4 linked regions of the Homo sapiens genome follow. The protein of the gene in region 3 purifies or fractionates together with the protein of the main gene of each other region. This does not show direct contact. Each region holds a gene or a part of one and is shown on either strand. Other genes may lie near its edges.

What was found.
Region 1: the proteins of MUC20 (region 3) and SLC25A14 purify together in Homo sapiens (affinity purification with mass spectrometry; 2 studies listed by BioGRID and IntAct, with this or other methods). This does not show direct contact.
Region 2: the proteins of MUC20 (region 3) and GATB purify together in Homo sapiens (affinity purification with mass spectrometry; 2 studies listed by BioGRID and IntAct, with this or other methods). This does not show direct contact.
Region 4: the proteins of MUC20 (region 3) and RAD51B purify together in Homo sapiens (affinity purification with mass spectrometry; 2 studies listed by BioGRID and IntAct, with this or other methods). This does not show direct contact.

What each region holds. Positions count from the first base shown.
Region 1 is NC_000023.11:130,363,919-130,367,418, reverse strand, and holds part of SLC25A14 (brain mitochondrial carrier protein 1 isoform 1 precursor), read right to left. Parts: intron 2,792-3,500; coding exon 2,667-2,791; exon of another isoform or gene 1,879-2,666; coding exon 1,743-1,878; intron 1-1,742. UniProt on the Homo sapiens protein: Transports inorganic anions (sulfate, sulfite, thiosulfate and phosphate) and, to a lesser extent, a variety of dicarboxylates (e.g. malonate, malate and citramalate) and, even more so, aspartate and glutamate and tricarboxylates.
Region 2 is NC_000004.12:151,702,008-151,705,507, forward strand, and holds part of GATB (glutamyl-tRNA(Gln) amidotransferase subunit B, mitochondrial isoform 1 precursor), read right to left. Parts: intron 3,263-3,500; coding exon 3,178-3,262; intron 1,889-3,177; coding exon 1,844-1,888; intron 1-1,843. UniProt on the Homo sapiens protein: Allows the formation of correctly charged Gln-tRNA(Gln) through the transamidation of misacylated Glu-tRNA(Gln) in the mitochondria. The reaction takes place in the presence of glutamine and ATP through an activated gamma-phospho-Glu-tRNA(Gln).
Region 3 is NC_000003.12:195,723,179-195,728,294, reverse strand, and holds part of MUC20 (mucin-20 isoform a precursor), read right to left. Parts: intron 3,616-5,116; coding exon 1,723-3,615; intron 1-1,722. UniProt on the Homo sapiens protein: May regulate MET signaling cascade. Seems to decrease hepatocyte growth factor (HGF)-induced transient MAPK activation. Blocks GRB2 recruitment to MET thus suppressing the GRB2-RAS pathway. Inhibits HGF-induced proliferation of MMP1 and MMP9 expression.
Region 4 is NC_000014.9:67,822,779-67,826,278, reverse strand, and holds part of RAD51B (DNA repair protein RAD51 homolog 2), read right to left. Parts: intron 2,739-3,500; exon of another isoform or gene 2,738-2,738; 5' UTR 2,736-2,737; coding exon 2,652-2,735; intron 816-2,651; coding exon 702-815; intron 1-701. UniProt on the Homo sapiens protein: Involved in the homologous recombination repair (HRR) pathway of double-stranded DNA breaks arising during DNA replication or induced by DNA-damaging agents. May promote the assembly of presynaptic RAD51 nucleoprotein filaments.

The DNA.
Region 1 (3,500 bases), on a different chromosome or scaffold from region 3:
AAGACGTGCTCCTCTTGTGATGCCTCTGTCAATGAATGTCACCACCTGGTCACCAACTCCAAAAACCCAGAACTTATCTTTGACACCTCTTTTCTCCCACACCCCTCCACATCCAGTCAATCAAATCCTGCTGACTCTATCAACTAATTCTTTCTTGACTCTGTCCCACCTTCTATATCTCCATTATCATGCTCAAGTTCAGGCCTTCATCCCCTCTTTCTCAGATTACAAGAGCCTTCTAATCAGCTTCCCTATCTGTAGGTCAGTGGTTCTCCAAGTGTGGTCTCCAGACTAGCAACATCAGTATTGCCTGGGAATTTATTAAAAATGCAAATTTCCAGGTCCCACTCCATACTTACTAAATCAGAATCTGGAGATGGCTCCAAGTGAACTGCAGTTTAACAAGCCCTCCAGGTAATTCTGATGCATGTTAAACTTTGAAGAACCATGGCTCCAGGCTTATCCCCTTAGTAGTCTTCAACCTTAGGTGAACATTGCAGTCACCTGATATAGTTTAAAATATTGACACCTGGACCTTACTCCCCAGGTTCTGAGTTAATTGGTCTAAGGTAGAGGAGGGAGCTGCGAAAGTTCTCCCAAGTGATTCCAATGTGTACCCAAGATGAGGAACCACTGTGGTAGATCCAGTCTCCATAAAGCCAAAGTAATCTATTTAAAATGCAAAGCTAATCTGATTAAAAACTTTCAACAGCTCCCTGACAAGTTAAAAAAAAGTCCAAGCACCTCAATATAGCATTCAGTATCCTTTATAATCTAACCCTTGGCCACCAATATGAGGAAAGCACCATAGTGGAGAGGTAAATGTCAGTTTGAGGTCAAGTGATCTGAGTTTAAATTCCAGTTCTCCCACTTAGTAGCTGTGAAACCTTAGGCAGCTTACTTAATCTTTCAGTGCTTCAGTGTCTACCTCGTGGAGTAATGGTGAGGATTCAATGAACGAATACACATAAGTCTCATAAGGACAGTTGCTGACACACAAAAAAGCACTCAGTGGATATGAGTTATTGTTATTCAAGATGCCACCATCTACAGGGAGCCTACCTCAATGCTTCCAAATTGAGAACTCTTGAGTTTATCACTTATCAGGCTGTACTGATGATCCGTTTGTATACCTATAGTACTTTTGTAATAACTGTAATTTCTCTCTAACTACTAAAATGGTGTCTAATATGTAATAGTTGTTAAACAAAACTGATAACAGGAGAGAAACCATATGGCAACATCATATTTTAGCCTCAATTTGTTTTCAGTAGCAATAATATCACCAGTAATGATGTAATACTTTTAGAATATTCAGTTCCCACAAACACAACAGCAGGAACTTTCAAAGCCAAAGTGAACAACAGCATAACCGTGAACTGAAATAAAATACAGGCTTTTTTCCTTAAGTATTGAGTTTTCTATTGCAGGGTCTCTGTGTTGTATGAAGTAGGCAAATGGGGGATATATTGTCTTTTCTATCAATAATTCTACATGATACTATTAATAAAAGCATCCTGTATTTTAAAGCATTCAAATGGGAATCATTATATTAAGTACCACTGCAAATTAGCAGATTGCTAAGGAGACAGCTTTTCTACCTGGGAATAACTGAGAAGCTACTAAAAAAATATGATTCTTTCATCTTCAAAATGGTATGTAGCAACTAATAATAAGAACTGAAGGAAGGTCTAAGACATCAAAGAAAGCCAAATTGTAACCCAAATCCACAATGTACTTACCTTTAAAATACCATCAACAGTGCCCTTATAGAGATCCACATGTCCCACGATTGCCCTCTGGTTCATCATGCGAGTTCGAACCACATCAACCGGGTTGGAGGCCAGAGCCCCAGCCAAACCACATGTAAAGCTGGAACTAAGAGGAAAAGTTTAAGTAGATCGACCCCACTTTCACTCCCTGCCCACTTAAACAGAAATTAGGCCAAACGTAAACTGTACAATATAACTCAGACCCATCAGATAAAACCTGGCACTTGGCCTTTCGTTACAATCTAAAGAGACAGGAAATTTTTCTAAAGAGACATCATTCAAAGGCTGTCCCTTCAATTTTCAATCTGAAACTCAGCCTTTTTTTTAAAGGAGAGTTTCTAAACCTAACAAGATTCCTAAGTAGAAAGTATCATGCACCATGTATTAGTTACATAAATTTTTCAAACCACAGCATCACATGCCAAATGCATTTGAGTAACAAAATTATCATAAAGGTTGCAAGACAAAGAAAATGTAAAATGAGATCAGTAACAGTCTTTAGCCAAAAAACTGTGCTTTAGTTTCACAGACCTTATTTACCCCTTTTTTTCTGATTCCCACTGAGAAAAGTTTGCTTTCTCAAACAAAATTAACCAAAGCAAATAATAGATGTGCTTATTAGATATAGAAGCTATGTATGGATAAATGTAAATCAAATAGACCTCTGATAGGCTGCTGTATTAGACAATGTTCCCAAGTACCCAAGCCCCCATAGCACCTGGCATTTCTGTGAAGTATAAAGTGTTCATAAGGCTTGAAGTTCTGATAATAGGAGAGACAAGGGAATTTAGGCCATACGTACCAGTTATCAAATTCCACCTGAGGATTTCAGTAAAAGAGGCTTTTTGTGCTCAAAATGCTGGAAATAAAATGAGCACATCCCATCCTACTTACACGAAGTGAGTTAAAATTGTATCGCCCATCATTCCTGACAATATTAAATGCTTCTTAGTAATATCATAGACTGGTAGCTCTACTCCTACAACGATGGCAGCACGCTGAGCAGTTGGAACCACACCCTACGAAACACAAGTGACATTAGGCACCAAGGAAATACAAAGGGAGTGATGTCTTAGAGTGAACAAAATAGGTCAGGAGTTGAAAAGTAACAGAAAAATACAAGTCTGAAGTACAGACGTCACTCTTTCAAATCAATGACTAATAATGGAACATATACAAATTTCCAATTCACTTGCTATACTAAAAATAAAATAATTGATATGACACCCAAAGCACAAAAGACAAAAGAAAAAAAAAAGATCAACTGGACTTCATCACAATTAAAAACTTTTATGACTCAAAAGACACCACTCAGAAAGTGAAGAGTCAACATACACAAAGGAAAAAAACATTTGCCGCTCATATATCTGATAAGGGACTAGTGTCAAGAATATATAAATAACTCTTACAACAAAAAAGGCAAACAATCCAATTTTAAAATGGCCAAAAGACCTGAAGATATTTCCTTCAAAAAAGATACACAAATGGCCAATAAGCACACGAAAAGATGCTAAACATCATTAGTCACTAGAGAAATGCAAATCAAAACCACAAGGACATACCACTTCATACCTACTAGGATGGCTATAACGATTTTTCTTTTAAGTAAAAGAAGGCCAGGCACAGGGGCTCATGCCTGTAATCCCAGCACTTTGAGAGGGTGAGGCAGGAGGATCACTTGAGGAGGAGTTCTAGACAAACCTGGGCAATACAGTAAGACTCTATCTC
Region 2 (3,500 bases), on a different chromosome or scaffold from region 3:
TAACACAATGGCATTGGTGTATCTAAGCATGTCTGAACAAGAAAGGGACGGTAAAAATGCCATATGACAATCTTATGGGACTCCTGTAGCATACGTAATCCACTGTTGACAGAAACATCCATATGTATGCAGGACTATGTCTTCATAAAGACACAGGCTGGAAAAAACAGGACCAAATGAGAGCAATTTGCTTATTAGAAGGAAAGATGACTTTCCCCCCATTTCAACATTTCTACTATTTTTAGCAGCATTTACATAAATAAAAAATGAAAGGAAAAAAATTTACCCTTGAGAAATAGAAGAAATGAATAGATTTTGCCTAAACAAAATGTGACAGCTGGAGAAGAGGGAGGGAGGGATGAAGAGGTGGAGCACAGGGCATGCAGTGGAACTTCTCAGTGTGACACGATGGTGGATGCATGTCATTGTGCATATGTCAAAACCCACGCAATGTACCACACAAACAAGGAACCCTAGTGTAAACCATGGACTCTAGCCAATAAGGAAGTGTGATTGGTTTCATCATTGTAACAAATGAGCATCTTGCATTACTGTGGCACATTAACAGGAGACTCTGGGGGGAGAGTGGGGAGCGGGAGTATGTGAGAACTCTGGACGTTCCATTCAATTTTATTGTAAAGCTAAAACTGCTCTAAAAAATGAAGGGAATTAATTTTTTTAAGTGTCAAAGCTGCACCATTGCATGTAATCTTATGAAACAAGATGTCCCTCCCTCTGTTCTCGTCCAGCACTAATGGTTACTCTCTGCCCATTTTTGTCAAAGGGCTTATGTAGAAAAAGCAGGGTATTCAGAAGAAGTGGTGGTTTGGAGGGAATGGATTCGAAGCACACGCTACCCATCGGCTCACTGCCAGATCTCTTCTGTGAGTTAGTCTGGCTTCTGAGGGCAAGAGGAAACCCAGGGGAAGCTTCCTGCAGCTCACTATCATTTGAGGCATCATGCTGAAGCCACGGGCGGATGGAAAGCCGGACTCCACACTCAGGGGAAGGCGCACCAACAGGGGAGGGAGCAACACTCAGGAATAAAGTGGGCCCCTGGGAGAACAGACTCACCCGGGAAGTTCACGGTTAATTAAAATAATTTTGACTCTAGCAGACAGACAATGGGAGTTCTTGGGGTGAGGTTCATGCTAAGCGTTTATGAGTTTCTTCTTTCCCACATAAACATGCAAATTTTGATCCTCATTGATAATAGCTACATTTGCATCTTTCTGCCCTTCACAAAGGAAAGGTGGCCGATCTCACAACTTTGTTGCTTAAAACTTCAACCTGCTAAACTCAATGAGAAAAAAATAAAAGTTTCAATTATCTTATGCCTGTTCTTAGCATTTGCTTTATTTGTGGGTCTCATATTAAGTAGTTCAACTTAATTTATCATGAAATAGCATCATATGAGGTTCAAGGGAACTACCATCAACATACGCTATCAACATCTCTTTTCTCATTTCTTCTCAAGGAGCTTCATTCAGCGTATTACTGAATCAGTTACTGAACATTAGAATAAGAACAGCCTAGGCCCCAACCTCTACAGCCATCCTCCTAGCTCAACTATGACAACTTTGACACAGCAGTGGATGAACAAGTTCTTCCAAAAGCTGAATCAGTCAAACAAGGCACCAGATCTGAGGCTACCAAATCAAGAAACTAGTACTTCTCTCGGTATGCATATCAAAGAGGAAGTCTAGATGTCCCATCATGTTACAACAATGACAAAAAGTGGTTTCTAAAAATTGTTCAGGATCATTATGTTGAACTTTAAATGAACTTGAAATACGCCCCAGCCCCCGATATATAGCGGTATTTTGCCATAAGGAGTAACCACCTGTAGTCCTGTTTTCCTTCTTTGTCTCTCATTGACATGGTGCACCTGCAATAGTTAAATAAGAAAACATTAAACATTGAAAGCAGCACTGGCCAGCCTATATGTGGGGAAGGGCTCCCCTACCAATAAGGGGCACAGGCAAAATCAAACTCTGTGGACTTCCATGGGGAAACCTTAAATGAATACATTCAAAAAACAATCATAAAGAAAGCGAAATGTACAGAATGATCTTTTTTTTTTTTTTTTAAAGGAAATGACTTCAATGTAGCCATCTTTCAGCCAGCTCAAACTCGGCTTTTGAGCTTTTTTCAGTATTCTGCTTTAAGTATACAATGCTCAAAATTCTGAGTGAGAAAATTAAGGCCCAAGTTATCTAAACAAAAATAAGGCATCTCTACAACCAGGTCTTCACTCTGTTCCGCCTCTAGCTTCAGCTGGGAAAGATCTGATAGATTAAGGAAGTAAAAATTCTTGCCACAAGGCAGGTAAGCTGGAAGCAGAGAAGGAAAGGGCCTAAAACGAAGCCCTTGGGCACAGTCTGGGTCACTTCAAGCCTCCTGGCAGCCCTAGGGTATATTATATCCCTATAGGGTACAGTACTTTTCTTTTTTTTTTTTCTTTGAGACGGAGTCTTGCTCTGTCGCCCAGGCTGGAGTGCAGTGGCACTATCTCGGCTCACTGCAAGCTCCGCCTCCTGGGTTTACGCCATTCTCCTGCCTCAGCCTCCCGAGTAGCTGGCACTACAGGCGCCCGCCACCACACCTGGCTAATTTTTTGTATTTTTAGTAGAGACGGGGTTTCACCATGTTAGCCAGGATGGTCTCGATCTCCTGACCTCGTGATCCGCCCGCCTCGGCCTCCCAAAGTGCTGGGATTACAGGCGTGAGCCACGGCGCCTGGCCTTCTTTTTTGTTTTTGAGAGGAGTCTCGCTCTGTCGCCCAGGCTGGAGTGCGGTGGCAACATCTCAGCTCACTGCAAGCGCCGCCTCCCGGGTTCATGCCATTCTCCTGCCTCAGCCTCCCAAATAGCTGGGACTACAGGCACCCATCACCATGCCCGGCTAATTTTTTGTATTTTTTTAGTAGAGACAGGATTTCACCATGTTAGCCAGGATGGTCTCGATCTCCCGACCTCGTGATCTGCCCATTGCCTCCCAAAGTGCTGGGATTACAGGCATGAAGGGTACAGTACTTTTCTAATTGTACTAATGAGGAAACCTAAAAGTGGAGACGCTACGTGCCTCCTTCAAGGTCACATGGCTGGTCAGTGGCTGAGCCCAGCCCTCTCGCACCACCCCCGGCTGTGGTCAGGACGCTCAGCAATGCGAACTCACCCCAGCTTGTGATGAAATGAGCGTGTTTCGTTCAGAATTTCACCTCCATTCTCAAGTTCATTGATTTGCCTCTGAATTTCATAGTCTAGGAAAAACACACTAATTTAGCATCATATTTTGATTATACCTTTCATCCAGTCAAGCAATAATTAGAAACAACCTTTCTCAATCTCTAAGTTAAAAAAAAAAAAAATCAAGAAGATTGTTTATAATAATCCTTCCCTTACACACTATATTTCCTTCTCACTGCCATCGTAGAATATTGGTGTTGGAAAGGGCCTTAGGAAGGCAGGCTCACTCCGTGTTGAGACAATTCAGGTTCA
Region 3 (5,116 bases):
TGAAAATAATAATCAATAAAAACTGAGAAAACTCAGAGACTGGTGCCGGTGCAGGTCCTTGGTATGCTGAGCGACGGTCCCCTGGGCCCACTGTTGTTTCTCTATACTTTGTCTCTGTGCCTTATTTCTTTTCTCAGTCTCTCATCCCACCCGACTAGAAATACCCACAGGTGTGGAGGGGCAGGCCACCCCTTCACTTTCCAGAGCAGTTTAGCTACCATCTTTAACCCTGTCAGATGGGGTCGTGTTACCCACCTCCTAAGGCTGTTTTGAAGGTTAAATAGAGGAGATAACATATGCAAAGCTGGTGGCACACTGCCTGGCATCATAACATATGCAAAGCTGGTGGCACACTGCCTGGCATCAGATAACATATGCAAAGCCGGTGGTACACTGCCTGGCATCAGATAACATATGCAAAGCTGGTGGTACACTGCCTGGCATCAGATAACATATGCAAAGCCGGTGGCACACTGCCTGGCATCAGATAACATATACAAAGCCGGTGGCACACTGCCTGGCATCAGATAACATATGCAAAGCTGGTGGCACACTGCCTGGCACCGGAGAGAACGTTCTGCTGGGGCCAGTGCTTACTGGGTGTGAAACATGTTTATATCACCCCTGCCTATAACATGAAAGATATTCAATAATATCTTTATGTATTGAGTGGTTGTGATTAATATTTGTATTCCCACCTCCCCCAGAAAGGTGGTAACAAGCTGCGGATACACAGAGATGAGGCCCAAGGGCAGAGTGACAGGAAGTGGAGGTGGAGGCTACAGGCTGACCAGAAGCTGGACTGACCAAGCAGCCTCTGACAATGAACTTCTCCCCTGAGAAGTCCCTGTTGCCTCAGAGATGTAGCTTTAAACTCCCAAGCCTTCGCTGTATTTGCTTATTTTATCTTACCTTTTTTTTTTGAGACGGAGTTTCACTCCGTCTCAGCTCACTGTAACCTCCACCTCCCGGGTTCAAGTGATTCTCCTGCCTCAGTCTCCCAAGTAGCTGGGATTACAGGCGCCCACCACTGCGCCCAGCTAATTTTCATATTTTTAGTAGAGATGGGGTTTCACCATGTTGGTCAGCCTGGTCTCGAACTCCTGACCTCAGGTGATCCGCCGGCCTCTGCCTCCCAAAGTGCTGGGATTACAGGCATAAGCCACCGCTCCAGGCCTGTATTAATTTATTTTAAGTCACTATCTATGGCATAAATCCCAGGAAATGCATCCAGCAGGCCCCACTTTCATGGGGTCCCAGCCTGTCAGAGAGCAGCAGCTTGGGCCTGATGCCTGCCTGCTGCTCCTCTGTGTGGCTATGGCTGGAATAGAAGCTTCCAGAGCTGCTCAACAGTGCACTTCACAGAAGGTCAGAGCTGGACAGGACTTCAGTGCCCATTCCAACCCTCTCCAAATACAGGTGGAGAAACTGAGGCCCAGAGAGGGACAGGGACTTGCCCAAGGTCACTCGGGTTGTTACAGGCAGAGCCGAGACCGCAAACCATTTCTCCGGACTTCCATCCCCACCCCTTTCCATACACAACCCTCCATCTGCCTTTTCCTGATTTCGCCAAGAACCACTAGAAGATCACGAAGAGGCAACATCAGGAGCAGGCTCTGAGTAGGCTCCAGATCCTTCCCTCCTCTCCACTCCTCAAGTGCGGAGACGTCCTGGAAACTCCGCATCCCAAATCCCCGAAGATCACCAGCAGGAGCCACTTACCTGCACTCACGTCTGTGGTCGGCCTCGTCCGGGCAGTCGTGGGCGTGGCTGTTGGGGGCTTCATCGTGGTCTTCGCTGAGGTTGTGATCTTGGCTAAGGTGCTGTTCGTCCCTCGGCTGCTGTTGGTTGTAGTCGGAGGGACAGAAGGAAGAGGGTCCCTGCTGGTGGGGAAGGGCCCCTTGGTTGCGATGTCCATGGTCGGTGTCTCTGAAGGGGTGAAGTTCTTGAGGGCGGCTTCCGAGGGGCTGTAGGAGGAAGCAGAGCTCCCAGCAAAGGAAGTTGTTTTGCCCACTGCTGACCCAGCCTCTATGGAGACCGGAGCTGCTCCTGAGACTTTGACGTAACTTGGTGTCTCAACAGAGAGGGCTGAGGTTTCTTCAAGGGGATTCCTGCTAACTGTGACCAGAGCTCCACTGAGGGTCGTGGCCCCGGGTGCTGTCACTTCTCTTTCTGTGGCGCTGTTAGTGGGGAGTGGGGTCCCAACCGTGGCATCAGGTGCAGCTGACTCTGTGGTGCCGGCTGTGGACAGGGTCTCGGCAGAGGCTGTGACCTCAGTGATGTGTGGTTTTGCTTCAGTGGAGTCAGGCAGAGCTGGTGGATCGGAGGTGGACGAGGCCTTCACCCCTTCCGTGGGGATGAGATCTGTGTCTGAGGCCCCAGGGATGCTGGAAGTCGTTGTTTCTATTTCTGTGATGCTGCAATTAATAACCTCGATGTTTGTGACAGTCACCAGGGCTTCAGCGAGGAGAGTGACGTCAGATCCCGGGGACCATGAGGGGGTGATGACTGGATGGGGGCCGTCGGAAGAGGCGCTGCTCTCTGAGGCCCGTGACGGGGTGATGACTGGATGGGGGCCGTCGGAAGAGGCGCTGCTCTCTGAGGCCCGTGACGGGGTGATGACTGGATGGAGGCCGTCGGAAGAGGCGCTGCTCTCTGAGGCCCGTGACGGGGTGATGACTGGATGGGGGCCGTCGGAAGAGGCGCTGCTCTCTGAGGCCCGTGACGGGGTGATGACTGGATGGGGGCCGTCGGAAGAGGCGCTGCTCTCTGAGGCCCGTGACGGGGTGATGACTGGATGGGGGCCGTCGGAAGAGGCGCTGCTCTCTGAGGCCCGTGACGGGGTGATGACTGGATGGGGGCCGTCGGAAGAGGCGCTGCTCTCTGAGGCCCGTGACGGGGTGATGACTGGATGGGGGCCGTCGGAAGAGGCGCTGCTCTCTGAGGCCCGTGACGGGGTGATGACTGGATGGGGGCCGTCGGAAGAGGCGCTGCTCTCTGAGGCCCGTGACGGGGTGATGACTGGATGGGGGCCGTCGGAAGAGGCGCTGCTCTCTGAGGCCCGTGACGGGGTGATGACTGGATGGGGGCCGTCGGAAGAGGCGCTGCTCTCTGAGGCCCGTGACGGGGTGATGACTGGATGGGGGCTGTCGGAAGAGGCGCTGCTCTCTGAGGACAGGCCCTTAGCTTCTGTGGAGGTGTGAGCCAATGTCAATATGTCCATTGTGAGTGTCTTTGCCTCTTCAGAGCTGTCATCGGTGCAAAGGGTGTCAAAGATGGCTTCCCTGGGATCACTGCCTGTGATGGTCTGAACTGTGGTCATTCCAGCTCCCTCGGGGCTGCCACTGGCGGCTGATGTCTCCACGGAGGTGGCGATCAGCACCATGAAGTTGGGAGATGTTTTTGTGAAACTCCTGGTCTCTCTTGCAGGGGAAATTCTCTTGGCTCCCCTGGTCTCTGCTTCTGGAATGGGGCCGGCTGGGGTTGAGGCCCTAGAAGAGGTCTCAGCGCTCAGCGTTTGAGTTTCCAGAGCGGCGTGGCCCGGTGCTAGAGTCATAGCGGGCACTTCTGTGTCGTCCGTTGTCATCGCAGTGTCTGCTCTGCGGGTGCTGGGGCCTGTGTTGGTTAAGACTGACTTGGTGAGCCTGGGTTCCAGTGGACTTCACACAAGCTATTGCGTTTACACCCTGGGCACTTCTGGGAGGAGGGTGGGGCAGGGGAGTGCCGTTACCTCATTTTTCATCTACATAAGCGAACAAGAAGGAGGCAGTCCTGGGAAGCCCAGGCCTGTGTGGCAGCCATGGAGCTGGGGTTGCCATGACTGGTGTCCTCTGAAACCCTGACAACTCACTTGGGGCCAGCAAGCCCCAGGATCTGCTGGCTATCGGCCTGCGTCTTTAAGAGGGGATGTGTGGGGCCAGCGTCCACCTTCCAGGGTGAGCCAAGAAGGCAGACCAGCGTCCAGGACTCGCAGAGCTTTCTGAACCTCTGTCCCCTTCCCCGGATACTTTTCTCATCCAACACATAGTTCCCCATGGAAGTAAAAACCCTTAAAAGACGAGAAAGGCCTATGATTGTGCCTTTCGGGGTAGCTGGGTGGATTGAGGCGGGGGAACCTCCAGAGACAGGGTGGGCAGTGCTGCTGCCAAAGCGAGGGAGCCGGCAGAGTCCTTGGGGCTCCAGCAAGGGAAAGACGGCACCCCCCACCCTGCCGAGGCCCCTCCTGAATGAGGGCTGAGAACTGCAGGGTTGGAGCCTGGGAACCATGGAAACCGTGGCCAGGCATTTTCCACAGGACACCGGGAGACCCTGAGGCAACACCTAGCTTTTCAGAGAGCGGCTGCCAGCACTTCTGCCCAGAGCAGAGGCCTGTTCCCTTGACTGGCCCTGAGGTGGGAGGAATGGGAGTCCCCGAGGGAGGCTACGGTAGGATATCTTCCCTAGAGACAGGGTCTTGCTCTGTTGCCCAGGCAGGTCTTGAATTCCTGGGCTCAAGCGATCCTCCTGCCTCAGCCTCTTGAGTAGTTTACTACAAGATCTTTTCTGGCCTGAGAAAGGGGGCCTCCCCTGTCTAGAGGGAGATCGGGCTCTCCCTGTGAGTGGGCCAAGGAGCCTCTTGGAGAGGGTTTCTAGATTTAGCAAATAAAAATACAGGGTACTCGGTTAAATTTGAACTTGCATTTCAGATAAACGACGAATAACTTTTTAGCATGAGTATTTCTCATGCAATATTGGCTACATACTTACACTTAAAAAAAATTGTTACCTGAAATTCAAATGTAACTGGATGCCCTGTGTTTTATCTGGTAATCCCAGTCTTGGAAGGAAAAGGATCAAATACGAACCCCCTAATTCTCTGAGCCTTCTTGGTCCAGCCTACACAGCTGGAAGCCCAAAGGTGGCGCTCTTGGAGTCTGACCTCCCCTGGCACAGGGTTTGAGATGGTCTTTACCCAGCTCCACTGGCCCAAAAGTAGCCCATAGACCCAAAAGGGGCCTAGCACCTCTCCCCAGGGCATCAGGATGGGGCCCCAGGTCCCCAACTGGTTGTCCTGTGGACCTCAGGGAATGACGACGCAGGAGTCAAGAGCCTCGGTTGCAGCTCCCGCTGTGCCGCC
Region 4 (3,500 bases), on a different chromosome or scaffold from region 3:
TACTTTATGATCTAGAGCAAGTGATGATGGTAAAGGTCAGTATATCAAAGAAAGGGGCATTCTAAAATTAAGATTATAATTTAACTATGAGGCCATCAAATACTACCTAATCAATCAGAGAAAGATGACCTTTTGAACTACTGCTATTGGCTATAGAAAAAAAAATAAAAACTTTCTGTTGCTCCCTAATTCCCATATTTAGAAATTGTCTCCCATGAGTTTATAAACTACATAAATTTTTCACACATAGGCTAGGCACGGTGGCTCACGCCTGTAATCCCAGGACTTTGGGAGGTCGACGCAAGCAGATCACTTGAGGTCAGAAGTTTGAGACCAGCCTGGCCAATAAGGTGAAATCCCATCTCTACTAATAATATAAAAATAAGTTGGCTTGGTAGCACCGTGCCTGTAATCCCAGCTACTCAGGAGGCTGAGGCAGGAGAATCGCTTGAACCCAGGAGGCAGAGGCTACAGTGAGCCGAGATCGTGCAACTGCCCTCCAGCCTGGGCAACAGAGCGTCTCAAAAAAGAAAAAAAAAATTTTCACATGTATTTTCCTTAGAGAACTAACTTCTATAGTAGAAAACTCAGTATTTTTGAGGTACTCATCTCTATTTCTGCATGTGCCTCATCCCTAAAAAAACATGTTTAATGAGATGAGGAATCATTCATAATCAAATCATAATAAAATATAAATATACCGTTTGCATCTTTGGGGCACAGGCCCTGCTGACCATACATAGAAGTTCATGGACACCTCGATAACTCAGACCAGTCACCTTCATAAGCTCCAGTGGGGAAAGACATAAAAAGTCCTAAAGAAACATAAAGAGAGTATTTTAAACATATATGTGTAACAAAGATACTAGAGTTAAAAGGAAACCTTCAATTGATACTGCTTATGTAGACAAAAGTATAATTTATCGCAGATCAAAGATTTATACATTCATTGTAGTATTTTCCCCATAAATATGCCTTAACTAAAAGTTGTAATGACACAAACTTATCTTCTAATTATCCTGTTTAGTTGGCATATACCAGAGGATACACCAAATAATATCACATAGCACCAGCATCCAATCCAGGTGCGTATGAGCGCTACACTTGTGCCAAAAAGAATTTGGGTATAAATATATGCCCAGAAAGTGTCAGGTTGAAAGAGTTTCTTTCCTTTTTTTTTTTTTTTTTTTTTTTTTTTTTGAGACAAGAGTTTTGCTCTGTCGCCCAGGCTGGAGTGCAGTGGCACGATCTCGGCTCACTGCAACCTCCACCTCCTGGGTTCAAGCGATTCTTCTGCCTGAGACTCCTGAGTAGCTGGGACTACAGGCACTCACTACCATGCCTGGCTAATTTTTTTTATTTTTAGTAGAGACAAGAGTTCACCATATTGGCCAGGCTAGTCTCGAACTCCTGACCTCATGATCTGCCCACCTCGGCCTCCCAAAGTGCTGGGATTACAGGTGTGAGCCACCGTGCCCGGCCGAAAGAGTTTCTTTCTAAGCTAGAAGTTCACTCAGAGATAATATTTCGTAGTTGAAAAAGAATGAAACTGACTATAGGATGAAATAACAAATTTCATACTTTTAAGAATGTTTCCGAGTATAAATATGCAAATAATTAAATGTATAACAAAGGAACCGATGTTATCTTTAACACAGAAAGCAATTCAAAAAAAAAATTGCAGAATGCTCTGTGAAAATGTCTTATTAAAGATAAAATCAGGCCAGGCACGGTGGCTCATGTCTGTAATGCTAGCACTTTGGGAGGCTGAGGGAGGCGGATCACTTGAGATCAGGAATTTGAGACTAGCCTGGCCAACATGGTGAAACCCCGTTTCTACTAAAAATCCAAAAATTAGCTGGGTGTGGTGGCATGTGCCTGTAATCCCAGCTACTCAGGAGATGGAAGCAGGAGAATCACTTGAACCGGGGAGGAGGAGATTGCAGTGAGCCGATATGGCACCACTGTACTCCAGCCTGGGCAACAGAGTGAGACACTGACTCTAAACAAACAAACAAAAAAAGGATAAAATCCTAAGATAAAACCTTAAATCTAGCCAGGCACAGTGGTGTGTGCCTGTAATCCCAGCTAGCTGGGAGTTGAGGCTGGAGGATTGCTTAAGGCCAGGAGTTCAAGATCAGCTGGGGCAGCATGAGAACCTAGTCTCAAAAACAACAAAGAACAAAAACAACCAACCAAAACCTTTAAATCTTATTTACCCTGCTAAGGAGGATTTGCTTCACCACCTTGCTTAAAAATGCAAGATCCGCTCTATATATTTCTCATGCTCCATCAATAAGAAAATGGTCTATTAATTTCTTTTGCTTTTAAGAGAAATGATACATGTTGAATAGTATCTCCTCATTTGAGTCCTATTTCTCATGTAACTATAAAACAGTAAAGCTGTTACTTCACCTTATGCCGTGACCACTTTCCCCTCAAAATGCAAAAATACTAAATTTGGGTAAATGAAATAGCAGTTGGAAATGCACCCAAGGAGGCTTGATATTTACAATTAGCCTATGGAAAAGCACCATCATTTATCTTTTTTTTGTAAGCCTACATTTTCATATTTCAAGTTTAAGAGGTATTAAGGTATAAAGTTAACTTGTGCATAAAACTTATCAATAAAAATGTTAAATAAAATTTACCTGACAGGTAAGGATCTGATGTCTACTCAGACGGTCACACAGCTCTTGTGATAAACCCACTCGTTTTAGTTTCTTGCTACCCATGCCTCCAGATCCAGCAAAGAAAAGAAGAACCATGAAAAAAACAACAGAATATAACATAAGTGATAGTGAATAGGCTATCCAAAACAAAATTAAAAATTCCTCAAGTTTCTCCATATGCAAAATGAAACATATTGTGTTAAAAATATTACTGATAAAGGAATGCTATAGAACCTTTTTAAATGTTTTAAATAGGAGGGACAATTGTTCGTCAAACAGGCACATAGAAAATCTACAAGGCAACCTCAAATATAATTTCACACAATTAATTGATATTTACTACATGAATATAGTACCACTTCACATTTGTAGAGCATCTTAAAATGTTCAATGCATGTATAAATTTTATTTGGAAATGTAATTAACTTTCAAGGCATATTTCCAAACAGAACTACTAGAAAGTCTATTGCACTGTAACAATTTACATTGCACTGTAACGGCAATAGGTATATTTATGGAGCACCTACCACATACCAGGCACTGTTCCAAAACTTATCTAAATTATCACATTTAATCTTCTCAATAGCCCTAGAAGGAAAGTAGATTATTGGCCCCTTTTTTACATATGAGAAAACTAAAGCCTGGAAAAGTTAGCTAGTCCATTGTCACCAGAAAACATAAATAACTGATCCAGAATTTGAATCCAGGCAGTCTAATTCTGAAACCTATCCTCTTAACCATTACACTCTACTGCAAGTCCATAATCATATTTAACTCTTCCTTTTTCTAGGAGTCAGAGCACACCTTCTGAATCAAATGAGATTTTAT